Linked DNA regions of Homo sapiens: region 2 is linked to region 1. The links come from fine-mapping of genetic effects on gene expression. A gene starts in region 1. The other region holds a variant in brackets. All regions are shown on one strand. Distances are from middle to middle. Region 1 holds the start of EXOG (exo/endonuclease G). Region 2 holds the start of ACVR2B (activin A receptor type 2B).

The links. PIP is the estimated chance that this variant, and not a neighbour inherited with it, causes the effect.
Region 2: its variant is fine-mapped to the expression of EXOG in whole blood (TOPMed, PIP above 0.99).

What each region holds. Positions count from the first base shown.
Region 1 is chr3:38,492,970-38,501,307 of GRCh38, reverse strand. EXOG (exo/endonuclease G) reads right to left here and starts at 4,968. Exons shown (of 6, transcript NM_005107.4): 1 at 4,778-4,968; 2 at 3,530-3,679. The coding sequence starts at 4,940. ACVR2B (activin A receptor type 2B) reads right to left here. Exons shown (of 11, transcript NM_001106.4): 11 at 8,166-8,338. RefSeq lists enhancers at 4,640-4,709, 4,770-4,819.
Region 2 is chr3:38,445,962-38,454,299 of GRCh38, reverse strand. ACVR2B (activin A receptor type 2B) reads right to left here and starts at 410. Exons shown (of 11, transcript NM_001106.4): 1 at 1-410. It overlaps ACVR2B-AS1 (ACVR2B antisense RNA 1), which reads left to right. Exons shown (of 2, transcript NR_028389.1): 2 at 1,075-3,273. It also overlaps a transcript of XYLB not described here. RefSeq lists silencers at 1-10, 431-550, 561-610 and an enhancer at 329-828. The variant G/A (reference allele first, on the strand shown) is at 3,344.

The DNA.
Region 1 (8,338 bases):
CCTCAAGATTCTCTAAGCAAGGCAAGCTGGTTGCTACTGGCTGGTGTCTCTCCAAGCAGCTAGTATTAGGGATTGCATGCATGTCTCAAGTTCCTGGGATAGTTCAGATACTTCATCTGAATTTAGAAAGTACTAGTCTAGGAAAGAATGCTTTTCATACAGTGTAGCTATCTCATATAATTTTGACTCTGGCCTTTCCAGTTAAAGAAAAACTCCTCTGAATAGTATTTTAAGTAAAAACAATCACCAATCAAAACACTAAACTATATAAAAAGCTTGGCTACTAAATAAACTCTTGTTTTTTAAAAAAGACTCCCATGTATTGTATTTTGTACGATTGTATTTGACAAGTTTATGTGTACTGAAATAATGGATATATATAGACACAAAACAATTTGTTCTAGGCAAGCACAGCCTTGGGGAGAGGAGTGTCTCTGATATCTTGCTTACTGCCTCTCGAACCATGACAAAATAAACATTTAAGTTATGAGCTCCACCCAGAAATTTCTAAAACAGAATATCTGGGTACCACATAGGAGAGAAGAAATCTCAGATTTTATTTATTTTCTGACACCTCCAGAATGGTTTGTCACAGAGAACATTAGCAAATCCTAACACTACCTATTGCACTATCGTGAGGTGAGACTTTCTTAAACTACAAAAGTTATGACAACAAATGAAACATACTCAGACTGTTATTCAAAGAAGTGTAAAATGGAGAACAATGAAGTCACTGATTCCAAGGTGATTTCATTCAGCCAAGAAAAATTTAGTATCAGATCCCAAAGTTTACAGTAAAGTATCATATATGTAGCTTTTTAGAATCACTTTATAAAGAATAATACAGAAAAATTTATCATTAGTAAATTTCTAAGTGTCATTACCATTGGAATCACTTCCTTCTACAGCTAGTTATCTTTGGCTGGTGCTTACTGCCCTGGAAAAGCAATTTGTAGGAATTTCCAAAGACCTAAAAAGATACCTTCCTTGAGAAAAGATATAAATTTACTGCTGTAAGGTGTCTAGCAGTATTCCCAGTGGAGAACCGTATTAAACCATGCTCAGGGATTAAGGTTCCCTGATCTCCTCTCGATGCACAGATTTGGGCTGTAAGTCTGCATGATAGCCAGTTTTTGACTTTACCTTCTCTGGAACAAACTTTTTATCTTCCTTTTGACCTTTCTCCGTTCAGTGCCAAGACAACCTTCCATGTAGTCCCTAAGAGTGGGCAGGGAAGTTAGTTCTAGTTCACTCTTCCCTGAGGATGTAGCCCTTTGGAGTTCCAGGGTAACACAGGAAGGGTCTCCTACACTGCAAGACCTACAGGACAATCTACCTTGGGTGAGTCTTAGGTCTTTCCTTCAATCCTCCTCACCCCATAATGCTGTGAATTCAAAGGCAAATGTGGTTTTGGTTTGCCAAGACTGCGCTTACCTCTTTGGATTCTCGCTTTCTCCCACCAACACTAACCTAGCAATTCGCCACTATGCTGCTGGCTCTTCATTTTTCTTAAGCCATTTTTTAAAAGATATACTTTTAGTTGGGCATAGTGGCACATACCTGTAATCCCAGCTACTCAGGAGGCTGAGGCAGGAGGGTCACTTGAACCCAGAAATTCAAGACCAGCCTAGGCAACATAGCAAAAATCCATCTCAAAAAAAAAGGTAAAAAAAATACAGATATACACTTTTTATATACTAACATTTTCTGTTTCAGCAGGAAGATTCTATCTGAATAACTCAGTCCATCATTACTGAAAACAGAAGACCTTTTACATTAAAATCAAGTAAAACACAGGTACATTGCTCCCTATTTTCAAATAATATTAATTGGCTCTATTTTATTGCCTCAAAAGTACACAGCTCACAAGACTTATTATACAATATAAAATGCCCAGGTTTTCTTATATGCTTGATAAAGTTTTCACTTACATCAGTTTCTGTCTAACACCAAGTACATTCCAAGCCTCCTGTTATTCTGCTGGTTGCTGTGCACTCTAGAATGGCACACACTAACTTTAATATCAGCATTTTAATATGCATAGCCATAGCACACATTTTAAAGCAAAGGAGAATATGTGGAACACACAGCAAATTAAAAAGCAAATAACAAAAGGGAACAAAACAACTGTGACAAAAGGTAATATCCTTAATAAATAAAAGAACTTTTACAAATAAATTCAAAAGAGAATACCCCAACTGAAATAGGTAAAGAATAACTTACCAAAAAAGACTAATTCACAGCATGTTAACCCTCATTGATAATCAATAAACACAAGTAAAATGAGCATTAAATTGGTAAAGCTCAGTAATGCTCACCATAGGTGAAGGTTGAGAGAGAGAAGAAACAATGATGCTAGGAGTGTAAACTTGAAGAATCTACCTAGAAACCAATTTGACATTAATTATCAAGATCTGGCAATTCTACAGGACCCTATCAAGACATAAGGACACATGAATAAACTGACACACCTGCTTACTTCTCCAGCATCATTTCACATCACCTTCCCCCTCATTCATCTACTGGCACTCTTTTAGTTCCCTAAAAGAACAAAACTCCTGTCCACATTGGGGGCCTCCGAAGATGCAAATGTTCCTTTCTTCCTAGAATGCTCTTCTCCATATCCCATGGCACATTCAACCCCTTGCCTAAGTAATTTCCGTTCACTCTTCAGTCCACTTTTCCAGAGAAGCCTTACTAATCAAAATCAGGTTCTTGTGTTATAATCTCTCATCACACTTTTTTTTTTTTTTGAGACACATTCTCCCTCTGTTGCCTAAGCTGGAGTGTGGTGCTGCGATCTTGGCTCACTGCAACCCCCACCTCCTGGGCTCAAGAGATCCTCCCATCTCAGTCCCCCAAGTAGCTGGAACCACAGAGGTGCACCACCACGCCCAGCTAATTTTTGTATTTTTTGTAGAAACGCGGTTTTGCCATGTTGGCCAGGCTCATCTCAAACTCCTGAGCTCAAACGCCTCAGCCTCCCAAAGTACTGGGATTACAGGTGTGAGCCACCACGCCCAGCCTCTCATCAAACTTTTTACTGTTCCTTAATTATACTACACTAACTTGCAATCACCTCCTTTGGAAAAATTATTGTAATTATACATCTAAAATTATTTGTTTGATGGGTCAACCCACTCTCCCAACTCAAAGTGTCACTGGGGTAGAGATCCTCTACTCTGGTCACACATAGGTCCCCAAGGGTTACCACAGTGCCAGACACATAGCAGGCACATAAATATTTGTTAAGGTAAAACTGAATGGTGCTCATTGCTGTAATATTTATGACAGAGCCTCCCAACTAGTGTGTCAAGATATGGGTATTTTCAGCCCTGAGACAGCTGGAAAGGGTCTGGCTTTCTGGCTGCCAGGCAGGGTTGATTTAACCAGTAAGTTATATAAATATAATTTTCTACATGTGCTATGATATGAAAAAGGTTGAGAATATTAATAATCATCCCTGTTTTAAATTTGGAGACATCTTTCATAAATACTGTTACTTCAGTTTTTTTATCCAACCACCTACCCATTATCTTGCTTTTGGAAATATGTTCAAGAACCCATCTAGGCACCCGCTTTGCCTGATCATAAGACAAAGCGTGATTAGTGTAACACCTTGCCTCTGTTCCAGTTAAAGGGAATCCAAATTGTTCCAAGACAGCCTTTTCTGCAGATCCTAAAAATGAAAAAAAAAAAAAAAGGGGGGGCAGAGACAAAAAAAACACACACACACAATTAGTGGCTCTTAATAATGAAAGATTATAAGGAAAAGGAGAGCGGTGTGATTTACAAAGGACTGGCTCAGAAGTCTAATCAACCAGAAAATCTCATTTTTGCAATTACTTATGAGATGAAGAAAACAGACAGTAGGCAAAGTACTGATTTGCCTATAATCAGTGAATAAAATGCAGCTACTGCATTAACTTTTGAATAAAGACTTGATCTTATTAGTCTTTCACATCAAATTTCCAAATCATCTCTGAAGCACTGATATGTGTGCTGTTGCAAGATGACAGTAAAACTGGTACTGTTTTTCCTAGTGGGAGAAACCAAGCACACATTCAGCAGTGAGTCAGTTTCGAGATAATCCTCCCCGATGCCTTCTCAAATCCTCAACCCCCCAAGGGGGTAGTTCTCTTGCTAGATGCCAAGTATCCAAAGGAGCAAGTTAAATTAGCACATCCGCAAAGTACAAGAAATGAGCTCGTGTTAATTTTTTTTTTTTTTTTGTCAAATATAAGGTACCCATTGCAACATGAGTTTTTATACACTTTGGAGGGATAGCAGGTATTCTTCAACTGAACAATGACGAAAGAAGGGCAGTTAACTCATCTACTAAAATTATGTATTAATTTATTCCTTCATTCATACTTACTGAATGCCAATTATGTACCAGGTACTGTGCTGGTTAGATGATGGAGACCAAAACAGACATAGTCTCAAGTCTTATGGAGCTAACAATCTTAGTAGAGAACACAGACATTAAAACATAGATATCGCGATGAGTAACTGGGGGGAAGAAAGTCGGGCGGCGGGGGTGGTTCTGTGCAGAAAACGAAGATGCCCGGGGGAAGGAAGGACATGAGGGAAGCTGGCGAGACGCGAGGTGGGGAAGGGAGGCCGAGCCGGGAGAATAAAGGTCAGAAACCAAGGGCCAGGCTAGGGGCCCAGCAAACGGTGAAGGCTGTCCGTCAAGGACTGCCATTCACACTCCAGGTAGGAGTCGGAGCCCGAAATCTGGGCCAGCGAAGGGAGGACGGGCCCACAGACTTACCATCCGGCTGCTTCCCTGTCAACGCTCCCTCAGCGCCCTGACTCCGGAAGAACTGCAGGGCCGCGAGCCCAGCTCCCGCAGCGCCCACTACAGCCCCAGCCACGAAGCCGCTCAGAAAACGACGGGAACCCCGGAGGCGGGAAGCGATACTCTTGATAGCCATCTTGCCCGAGGTACCGGCCTTTTACCACGGCGCATGCGCGCGCATGCCGGCCCCCGCCATCCCCCCGTCACCCCACGCCTCACCGCCCGCCAAGCTGAGGGCCTCGCACGCCCCCTGGTGACAAACCGGGATGCCTAGCGCATCCCCGCTTCATCCCTGGTCCACTGGACGGGGCGATGGATGGGGAATATGATGTCTAGAGGGCTTAGTGGTATGCTATATATAGTCATGAGAAGAAAATACCTTTAGTCTCATTTAATAGGTGAGTAAACACTTGCGCATGGTTACACTAAGGTCTCCAGAGCCGATATTCCAACTCAGGTCTATTTATTTATTTAGCGACAGGGTCTCTGTTACCCAGGCTGCAGTACAGTGGAATGATCATAGCTTACTGCGATCTCGAACTCGTGGGCTCAAGCGATCCTCCTGCCTCAGCCTCCTGAGTAGCTGGGACTACAGGCACGTGCCACATTGCCCGGCTAAATTTTTGGCGGGAGTGGGGGAGCGGTAAAGAAGGGGGTCTCCTTATGTTGCCCAGGCTGGTATCCAACTTCTGGCCTCAAGCAATCTTCCCGCCTCGGCCTCCCAAAGTGCTGTAAGTCCAGGTGTGTGTCACTGTCCCCAACCTTCTCTTTTAAATTGGAATAATAATACTTAGACCATAGCGTTCTTGTGAGGATTAAAGGAGATGACACATGTAAAATGTTTAGGGAAGTACCAGGGGCATGTCACTAAGTGCTCTATAAATGTTAGAAATGTTTGAGTCATCTCTACTCTTTGTCTTGATAGAATATAAAATCCAGATTGCTGAACGCCTGCTGGCAAAGAAAGGATAGATTTCATGGACTACCACTCACAAACAAATGAGTCTTCATTTTGCAGCATGATCTCTAGCATTCCGTGTGGACTTAGTTCTTAGCAGAAACTTCAAGTTTCCTATTTCTTAGATAACTGGTAGGAATAACTTTCATCTGATCCCACTGATGATTCACTGACCAGGAGGCCACTTCTAACAACCTACTGAAGTGTGCACATTATTTTGACAGCCTCAAATGGGAGGCTACCCCCTTGCCAGGAATACCTCTTCTGAAGGACCCTGACTGGTTAAGCTACATCAACCAGAGTCCTTCCTAGGGATTTTCGATCTAGTAGTCTCTCTGGGTAGCAAAGCTGTGACGTAAAACTCACAGGCGCAGTGGCTCATGCCTGCAATCCCAGCACTTCGGGAGGCCAAGACTGGAGGATCACCTGAGGTCAGGAATTTGAGACCAGCCTGGCCAACATGGTGAAACCCCGTCTCTACTAACAATACAAAAATCAACCAGGTGTGGTGGCGCGTGCCTGTAATCCCAGCTACTCGAAAGGCTGAGGCAGAATTGCTTGAACCCAGGAGACGGAGGTTGCAGTGAGCTGAGATCGTGCCACTGCACTCCAATCTGGGCAATAGAGCAAGACTCTGTCTAAAAAAAAAAAAAAAAGCTCTGGCACTGTCTACAGCCTTGTTTCCTGCTAAGAAGTCAAAGGAGCAGATGCATCTGGTCTTGCTCTGAGCAATAATGGAAGAAATACCAGGACACAGGTGGAGGCCTGCAATGTTATGACCCCAACTCCCACAGGCTCCTGAAGCCCACATACATCCTGCCTTTCTGAAGTCTTGGCTAGTCATTTCCCCCAGAATCCTTTCAGTGAAACCCCCTTTTTTGTCTAATGGCTTCTGTCACCTGCAACCAAGAATCCTAACAAATACAACCAGACAACACTGGTATCTGTAGGCTTCAAGGCTACTTCAGCAGCTTTCCCCAGAATTTACTAAATACACAATCACTGAGGTACTGTATTTCTTAAGGCCCTTGTAAGTGCCAGACACTGTGCTAAATACTAGAGAGATAAATATTAGATGGCTTTTCCTAATCCAGATCCTCTACTTCTGAACAAGTGTAACCCCACTTTTGGTCCCAAGAGGTCAAGAACTGGAAGGGTTGCCTGCCTCAGGGTAGGAAAACTCCCTCTGGGCCTGTTTGCCCACCTGTAAAATTGGAATTGGGCCAGTGATTTGTAAACTTTAATCAAGGTTCCTAGGTGTTCCATAGGGATACCTGAGACTTAAAGGAAGGGATGGGAGGGTAAGTGAAATGGTCCCTTGGCCCTCTTCTACTTGCTCATTCAGACAAGCCTGGTTTTATAAACCAACTTCTGTGTCAAATTTCTTTGGTCAAAGAATTCCTTTGCTATAGGGAAAGTTTGACCAGATGACTCCTAAGGTCCAACCTTTCAGCTTTTCCAGCTCCAAGATCCTGTATCAAAAATGTCAGCCCTTTGCTCTCCTTCCTTCATTAGAGGCACTCACTAATAAAAGGTGAACTTTCTAAACGTGAAAGAGCAAAAACAGCCAAATATTGGGCAACTGGTCCCTGAATAAAGGGTCATCAAAAACTTTCTCCACAAGTTTCAAACCGTTGCTTAATTCTCATAATAAAGGGTGAATTTAAAGGGTGTTTCTCCACTTAGGCAAGAAAGAGTCATCGACCAAAAAAACTTGTTACTGCAGAAAGCAGTGAGGTGATTTCTGGGGCCTTCCTGTTTTGTTAGGTATTAAAGACTATCATTATTTTATTATTGGGGAACCATGAGTTCCTTTAGTGAGATTAAGTCCAAATCTCTGAAACTGGAGACCTGGTTTGCTAATTCCAGGTTGGGGATAAGGACCCATAATTGTATTTTTTAATAGCTCCGCAAATGACTCCAGTACTCAGCAACGTTTGGGAATGACAGAGTTTGTCATCTGCAATAGTCCTGAATACAACTATTTTCAAGGCTTCTCTGCTCCACTTACAACAATATTGCTCAGGGTTGTCTGCAAAGTACAGGACTGGTGGCAGAGGATGAGGGAATGGGGAGTGTCTTGGACATTTGGAAAATATGCTAACCTGCAGAAACTTACTCAAAATCCCAGAACAGTTCGTTCAGGAGAATGGTCCCCATTCATAATGTCCCCAACTAGACCCTGGACTTCTGAATGGCAGAAATGGAGACCTGTGCTTAGCTCCAGCCCCACAGGACCATGGCAGACTAGGCATTCAGCCATTAACATCTGTTAATGTTACACATACCAAACAGGAACTGACTTGAGTCAGCCCTCTAAGCAGCCGAACGCCATTTCATTTCATGTCTAATCCTCATGAAAGGAAACTCCAATCCCCTGCCACGTAATTAAGAAAGACAAGATTGTTTTATTATTATTTTATTTTCATATACAAAAAGATAAAACTTGAAATAGTTCTAGATTTTTCCTCCTATTGTTGGGGTGTAACTGCTTCTTCACACAGGGGGAAAAAACTACATTCACATCGGTTTATTTGAGGACCCAGTGCAGAGTTCAAGCAGCAAAACCCCAACTT
Region 2 (8,338 bases), 47 kb after region 1:
CACCCGGAGCCCGCGGGCAGGGCCGCACGGCGCTCCCGGGGCGCGCAGGGCCAGGCGGCGGCTGCGCTCTCCTTCCCGCTCCTTCCTTCGGTCTCGTTCCCTGCGCGCTTCCTGCGCCTTCGTCCCCGAGCAGCGTTCGGGCTCCAAGGGCCGGTCGGCGGGGCCGGGCTCAGGGCCGCTGCGGGCGGCGCAGGCTGCGGCCCGGGCTCCGGGGCGACGCGGGGGCCGGGGGGCGGCGGCGGGGCACGGGCCGGGGCGCGCCCGACTCAGGCATAGCGCGGCGGGGCTGGGCCCGGGCCCCGGGCGCAGGGGCCGAGTCCGGAGGGGCCATGAACGGGGGGAGGGGTGGGGGGGAGGGGAGCTGAACCGAGTCCAAAATGGCTCCTGAGCGGCGGCCACGGAGCCGAGCCAGCGGGGAAACCCGGATGTTGGATACAAAGAGGCGGGCGGGCTGGGCGGGGAGGGGGAGGGGAGGCGGGCCCTCCGGCCGCGTGGTCCGCGCCCCCCTGAGGGGCGGGGCCCCAGAGAAACAACAACACGGAGGCCCCGCCCCCATCCCGCGCCCTGTGGGAGGACGCGCGTGCACCAACTTGCTGGAGGACAGGGCGGGGCGCGCGGACGGAGGTGGCGGGAATGGGCTCCTGACCACTTTGCCCGGGAGCCTGTGGCCACTGCACTCGCAATTAGTGCCCCGCACGCTCGAGCCCAAGCTCCTGACACATGCTGCCCTACAACCCCGGAATGAGTGGATAGTCCCGGGACTCTGGCCCAGACGCCTCTGTGCCTTGGATTCCCCACCTGTGCAATGGGGGTGACAGTGAACCGTGGGAAAGTCGGATCTCTACTGATGGGCGAATTAAGTGGCAGAAAGAGGCTGACTTCCCTGAATTGACAAGCAGTCTCCCGTCTGCAATCCCTTGCCACACACTCAAAGGCACAGCTAGGGCGGGGAGTGGTCATTTAAACCCAACCAAGTGAGGGAGCGGGCAGAGTCCCGCCCCTCTAAGCCCAGCAGGTGGAAAAGGGCCTCTGGCAACCTGCTGGCCCTCCCTAATCCTATCTTGTCTTCTGCAGTTCCTGCGCCACCCACAGCGGCCCTGAGCTTCAATCTGCACTTTCAAAACTTCCCAGTTGCCTCCAGAGCCCTGCAGTTGAAGATCTTGTCTAGCACATGGTTTTGCTGTTTTCCTCACCCCGAACTCCCTCCTTGGAGGGCCATCGTTCTCTGTCTCAGATTCCACCCTCCTTATCACACAACTAGAGCTTCGGAGGAACGTGATGGGGCTCCCAACTAAGGAGGGAAAGACCATCATAGCTCAGGGATGAGGCTCCGAGATCCTCAGATAACATTAATTGTCCTCTGTCTTCTCTTGACTTGGCACATCCTTGCTTGGAGCAGGGCAGGAGCAGCTGAAAGGGAGGTGGCACCTGGAGGTCTCAGTCATTTCACTTCTCTGAGCCTCAGTTTTCCCATATGCAAAGTGAAGAGGTACACTCCCTCAGGGTTTTGCATCTTCTTAATGGCAGAAACCTAGTCAAACAAAATATTATGTAAATGTTCACTATAGGCAGGGCGAGGTGGCTCAAACCTGTAATTCCAGCACTTTTAGAGGCCCAGGAGGCTCTTGAGGTCAGGAGTTCGAGACCAGCCTGACCAACATGGCAAAAACCTGTCTCTACTAAATAATACAAAAATTAGCTGGGCATGGTGACACACACCTGTAATTCCAACTACTCGGTAGGAGGCTGAGGCAGGAGAATCGCTTGAACACAGGAGGGAGGCGGAGGTTGCAGTGAGCTGAGATTGCACCACTGCACTCCATCCTAGGTGACAGAGTGAGACTCTCTCTCAAAAAAAAAACAAGTTTATAAAGGAATGTATATTGTTCTGATTGACATTGAAATAGGGTCAACTACCCCCGGTCACCAGAGCAGCAGGAACACCTCAGGGGCCACACTTTGGAGGCACTGCCCAGAAAGATTTCTGGGTCTTTAAAAGTCCCTTCCAGTCCTGGGAAATTCTATGTGAAAATGATGGTCCCTGCTTGCTATAATCCCTACAGGTGACTTATTATCTAAGCCATTTAACACAGGATTGAATACTATGCGACTGTGTGCCAAGCAAGAAGCAGTGTTGTATGGGACACCCTAGCTGTGTATAAGGTATCTGGTAATAACACAGGAGGCCACAGTGATAGACTGTGATAACGGAAGTAATTCCATATCCAGTTTAAGTGTCTTTTCTAGGGAGTATAAATCGTTATCTCCATTCCAATATGGACTGAAAGGTATCGACTTTTATCCATGTGCCAAAAATTAGATTGGCTGGTTCCTCTCTTCTACTCCATACCAGGTCAGGTATCATAATAAGGACTCAGAGTGGTCCAAGCTGCCCAAATATCTGTGTCTTCCACTCTGACCTGTCTGGGAACCCCAAATTTATATCCAACTGCTTACTTGACAACTGCAGTTGGTAGCCTATCAGGCATCTCAAATTTGACCTAGCCAAAGCAGAAGTCCTCATTTTCCCCGTAAATCTCCTCCCCAGTTTTCCCTGTCTGAATCAATGGCATAAGCAACTACACCATTGCTCAAATCAGAACCTTATGAGTCCTACTGAAACCAGCCAAAGAGTCCCATAGACAGTTGTTTTTGTTTTTGTTTTTGTTTTTGTTTTTGAGACAGAGTTTGGCTCTTATTGCCCTCACTGGAGTGCAGTGGCACGATCTCGGCTCACTGCGACCTCCACCTCCTGAGTTCAAGTGATTCTCCTGCCGCAGCCTCCCAAGTAGCTGGAATTACAGGCACGCCACCATGCCCAGCTAAGTTTTGTATTTTTAGTAGATACAGGGTTTCATCATGTTGGCCAGGCTGGTCTTGAACTCCCAACTTCAGGTGACCTGCCTGCCTCAGCCTCCCAAAGTGCTGGGATTATAGAAGTTGACCCTTTTGCAGTTAAAGCTGGAAACTTACTTGTTTTATCCGAGTTCCTTCCTCAGGAAAGGACCTTCAGGCCTCTCACAAAAAGTATCAAAGAACTGAAGCCATAAAAAGTATCAAAAGAACTGAAACCAGATCACTGCACTAGATGCTGGGCCCCTCAGTCACCATGATTGCTTCCTTGCCCCTCCCATGTTCCTGTTTTCTTACATATTGTTACATTTCTTTCCTGCTATATAAACCCTTGGTTTTGGTCAGTCAAGGAGATGGATTTGAGACTGCACTCCCATCTCCTTGGCTGCAGCACCTGATTAAAGCCTTCTTCCTTGGCAATACTTGTCATCTCAGTGATTGGCTTTCTGTGCACCGAGCAGCAGGACCTAGACCAAACCCCTGGTGTTTC[G/A]GTAACAATACTTGATTCCTCCCATATACAGTCCATCAGCAAAATAGCCTCAAAAGTGTATCCACCATCCGACTACTTTTTTCCATGTACACTACTGCAACATTGTCTTATATCTGGACTGTTGCAATAGCAGTGAACCAGAAGGGAGCTTAACTGGTCCTCTGAATTCATTCTTGCCTTAAATAAATCTTCCATATAGTAACCAAAGTGATTCCCTGCCATCATTTTGATCATGAGCTCATCAAGCAAATACTAGGCTGGTTGAGAAAGGTGATAATGGATATTTGAAAAACGAGTTCTATTTGGGTTTTCTGTTCTTTTGAACGACTACAAGATTGCTAAATATCACATTTGGTATCAGACATCGGGTGACCAAAAACTGAAAGGCAAAAAAAATCTGAAACCCCAAATGTCTGCTGTAGAATTTATGGCAGTGAATTCTGCCATTAAGGCATTCAGTGTGTTAGGACCACTATTCCCTGGCTTCCCCACCCTTCAACAATCAAGACCAGAAACCAAGGAATTGAGAAGAATCAGTTGAACATGACATTCTTTAGTATCAAGCTATGGAAGAAGATGGAAAACTATAGCATTGTAATAAGACTTGGCATCTATATAATTATAATGAATTCTATTAAGGGATTAAATACATTCATTTAGCAAGATAAACTTTGAAAGTAACCACAGTTTTTATAATGTTATTTGGGAATTTCTTCATTTGAGAAAATATAAGTGGCCTCACCCTCTCTCAGTTTCTGAGAGGCCCTGGTTAGACATTCACTGTAGTGGGTAATTTAGGCATAGCAATACGAAATTAAACAATTTTATGAGAGTACCATTCACAGTGTATAATTGTTGGGGGAGGGGTGGGCAGTGTATACTTTCTTTGGTAATACAGTTCCCCCAAGACTTAATAAGCTATCTGTTATTTCCTAGACACAGTTCTCAAAGTGCTTTATTTCTTTGCCTTATTTATTTTCTTCCTAGACCTCGTACTTTCCCCGCCCCTTTCTCTTAACTTAATGGTGGTTACTTGAGGTCAAAAAAATGAATTGGCTTGGGTAGAAAGCTAACACTATCTCTCAAGAGAGATTAGATTATGCTGTGCTAATGGAAAAATCCCAAAACCTTAATGGCTTAAAATAACAAAATTTATATCTTTCTCGTGATACATATCCATTGGAGGTCAACAAACAAGCTCTACTCATTGTAATAACTCAGGGACACAGACTAAGAGGGCTACCTTTTGATACATGCTTCTACTATTGGAGAGACAAGGGAAAGAGAGCATGGTAAATGCTGGCCCTTAAAACTTCTACCAGACTGGGAAGATGATGGTTAGGTTGTTGGCTGCATTGTTTTTGAATCTTTCAAAATCTTCACATGAAAACACAGAGTAAGCTGGGTGTGATGGCTTATGCCTGTAATCCCAGCACATCAGGAGGCTGAGGCAGGAGCATCACTTGAGCCCAGGAGTTCAAGACTAGCCTGGACAACATAGTGAGACCCCCGTTTGTTAAAAATAAATAAAAATAAGGCTGGGCATGGTGGCTCACGCCTGTAATCTGAGCACTTTGGGAGGCCAAGGCAGGTGGATCACGAGGTCAAGAGATCGAGACCATTCTGGCCAACACGGTGAAACCCTGTCTCTACTAAAAATACAAAAATTAGCTGGGCATGGTGGCACATACCTGTAGTCCCAGCTACTCAGTAGGCTGAGGTGGGAGAATCACTTGAACCCAGGAGGTGGAGGTTGCAGTGAGCCAAAATCATGCCACTGCACTCCAGCCTGGCAACAGAGCAAGACTTGAATGTCTCACAAAATAGCAATAATTAATTAATTAAAATAAATAAATAAATAAAAATGAAAAACACAGAGCAACTGTATGGAAAAAACCAGACCATCCAAGTGCACTCACTGAAAAACCAGGTGACAGGATTTCCCTCAAAACATCAAAATACAAGCAAATAGAGACAAACTACTAATAGCAACAAAAGCTGTGTGGGCGAGCCTCTGCGCAAGAGGGAGCAGGATACAACAGGGTATATGACATACCTGAGAACCTCCAAGAATTCACACAGGATGGGGAAATGTTTAGCTCCACCCAGCAAAATTGGAGTCTTCATGGAAAACTCAGAACATTCAGTAGAGACCCAGAGAGTCACTCCATAGTGGAGCTAAACCAGCCCTAGATAATAAAGGCTATTGTAAACCTCAATACTAAGCTAAAGGAACAAGCCTTGACATGATCAACTTGATCTATAAGTTAATTTAACTACCCACCAGAGGAACCATCACTTTTTAAAGAAATTCTATCAATCTGACACTCAGTAAAAAAATATTTTAAATGCCCACATCTAATAAAAGAATTACTAAGCATAGGAAGAAGCAGGAAAATGTGACCCAAAAGAAGCAGAAAAATCATTCAATAGGAACAGATACAGAAGTGACAGAGATAATGGGATTATCAGTCAAGGATTTTAGTTTAATTTGATTTTTACAGGTATTTTTGTACAAATTCATGGAGGACATGAGAAATTTTGTTGCATGTATATAATGTGTATTGTTCAAGTAATGGCATTTAGGTATCCATCACCCAAGATCAATACATTATTCTTAAATATAGTCACCCTACTCAGCTATCAGACATTGAGTTTATTCTATCTGTATGTTTGTACCCTTTAACCCAGTTCTCTTCACCCACCCACCCCAGCTCCCTACTCACCCCTCCCAGTCTCTGTTATCTATCTCTCTACTGCCATAAAATAAAATATTTTAGTTTCCACATATAAGTGAGAATATATATTTGTCTTGTTGTGCCTGGCTTAGTTCACTTAAGATATATCCAGATCCATCCACGATGCTGCCAATGACAGGGTTTCTTTTTTTTTTAATTAAAATTTATGAGACAAGGTCTCACTATGTTGCCCAGGCTGGTCTCAAACTCTTGGGCTCAAGCAATCCTTCCTCCTCAGTTTCTCCAAGTGTTAGGATTACAGTCATGAGCCACCATGCCTGGCCAATTTCATTCTTTTTAATGGCCGAATAGTATTTCATTGTGTATATATACTACATTTTCTTTATCTGTTCATCCGTTGATGAATGCTTAGGTTGATTCTATATCTTCTCTTTTAAGAATAGTGCAATAATAAACAAGAATGGAGGTATTCCTTTAATATATTGATTCCTTTTCCTTTGGGTAGCTATCCAATACTGGGATTGCAGGATCACATAGTAATTCTGTTTTTAGTTTTTAGAGAACTCTCTATACGGTTGTTTTCCATAATAACTGTGCTAGTTTACATTCCCACCAACAGTGTATAAGAGTTCCCTTTTCGGCCAGATGTGGTGACACATGCCTGTAATCCCAGCATTATGGGAGGCCGAGGAGGGAGGATTGCTGGAGTTCAGGAGTTTGAGACCATCCTGGACCAACATAGGGAGACCCTGCTTGTATCTACAAAAAAAAAAAAAAAAAAAAAAAATTAGCCAGATGTGGTGGTGCATGCCTGTGGTCTCGGCTCTTCAGGAGGCTGAAGTGGGAGGATCACTTGAGCCCAGGAGGTGAAGGCTCCACTGAGCCATGATCGTGACACTGCACTCCAACCTGGGCAACAGAGTGAGACCTTGTCTCCAAAAATAAAATAAAAAAGAGTTCCATTTTCTCTGCATCCTCGTCAACATTGTTATTTTTTGTCTTTATAATAGTAGCCATTCCAGCTGGGATAAGATAATTATATGGTGGCTTTGATTTGTATTTCTCTGATGATAAGTGACATTGAGCATTTTTTCATATGCTGTTATCCATTTATATGTCTTCTTTTCAAAATGTCTATGCATGTCCTTTGTCTACTTTTTAATGGGATTATTTGGGATTTTGTTCCTGTTCAGTTGTTTGAGTTCCTTGTATATTCTGGATATTAGTCCCCTGTTGGATTAATACTTAGCAAATATTTTCTCCCATTCAACAGGTTGTTTCTTTACTCTGTTGATTGTTTCTTTTGCTTTGCAGAAGCCTTTTAGTTTAATAGAGTCCCATTTGTCTATTTTTGTGTTTATGGCCTGTGCTTTTGAGGTCTTAGTCATAAATTCTTTGCCTAGACCAATGTCCAGGAGAGTTTTCCCTAGGTTTTCTTCTGGTATTTTCATAGTTTCAAATTTTGAATTTAAGTCTTTAGTCCATTTTGATTTGGTTTTTGTATATGGTGAGAGATAGGGGTCTGGTTTCATTCTTCTGCATGTGACTACCCAATTTTCCCAGCACTATTTATTGAAGAGGGTTTCCATTCCCCAATATAAGTTCTTGTCAGCTTTGTTAAAGATTCGTTGGCTATAAATATGTGGCTTTATTTCTGGGTTCTCTATTCTGTTCCATTGGTCTATGTGTCTATTTTTATACCAGTACCATGCTATTTTTGTTAATACATCCCTGTAATATATTTTGAAGTAAGGTAATGTGATGCCTCCAGCTTTGTTCTTTTCACTCAGGGTTGCTACTGAGAGGTGAAACCAGCTGGACTCTGGATGGGGTGGGGACTTGGAGAACTTTTCTGTCTTACAAGAGGATTGTAAAATGTACCAATCAGTGCTCTATAGCTAGGATTTTAAAATGCACCAATCAGCATTCTGTGGTTACCTAGAAGTCTGTAAAATGTGCCAATCAGCACTCTGTAAAAATGCACCAATCAGCTCTCTGTGGCTAGCTAGACGTTTGTAAAATGGACCAATCAGCACTCTAATCTGGCAATCAGCACACTGTAAAATGGACCAATCAACAGGACATAGGTGGGGACCAATATGGGAATAAAAGCTGGCCACCCCAGCCAGCAGCAGCAACCCACTTGGGTCTCCTTCCATGCTGTGGAAGCTTTGTTCTTTCACTCTTCACAATAAATCTTGCTGCTGCTCAATCTTTGGGTCCGTGGCACCTTTAAGAGCTGTAACACTCACCACAAAGGTCCACGACTTCATTCTTGAGGTCAGCAAGACCAAGA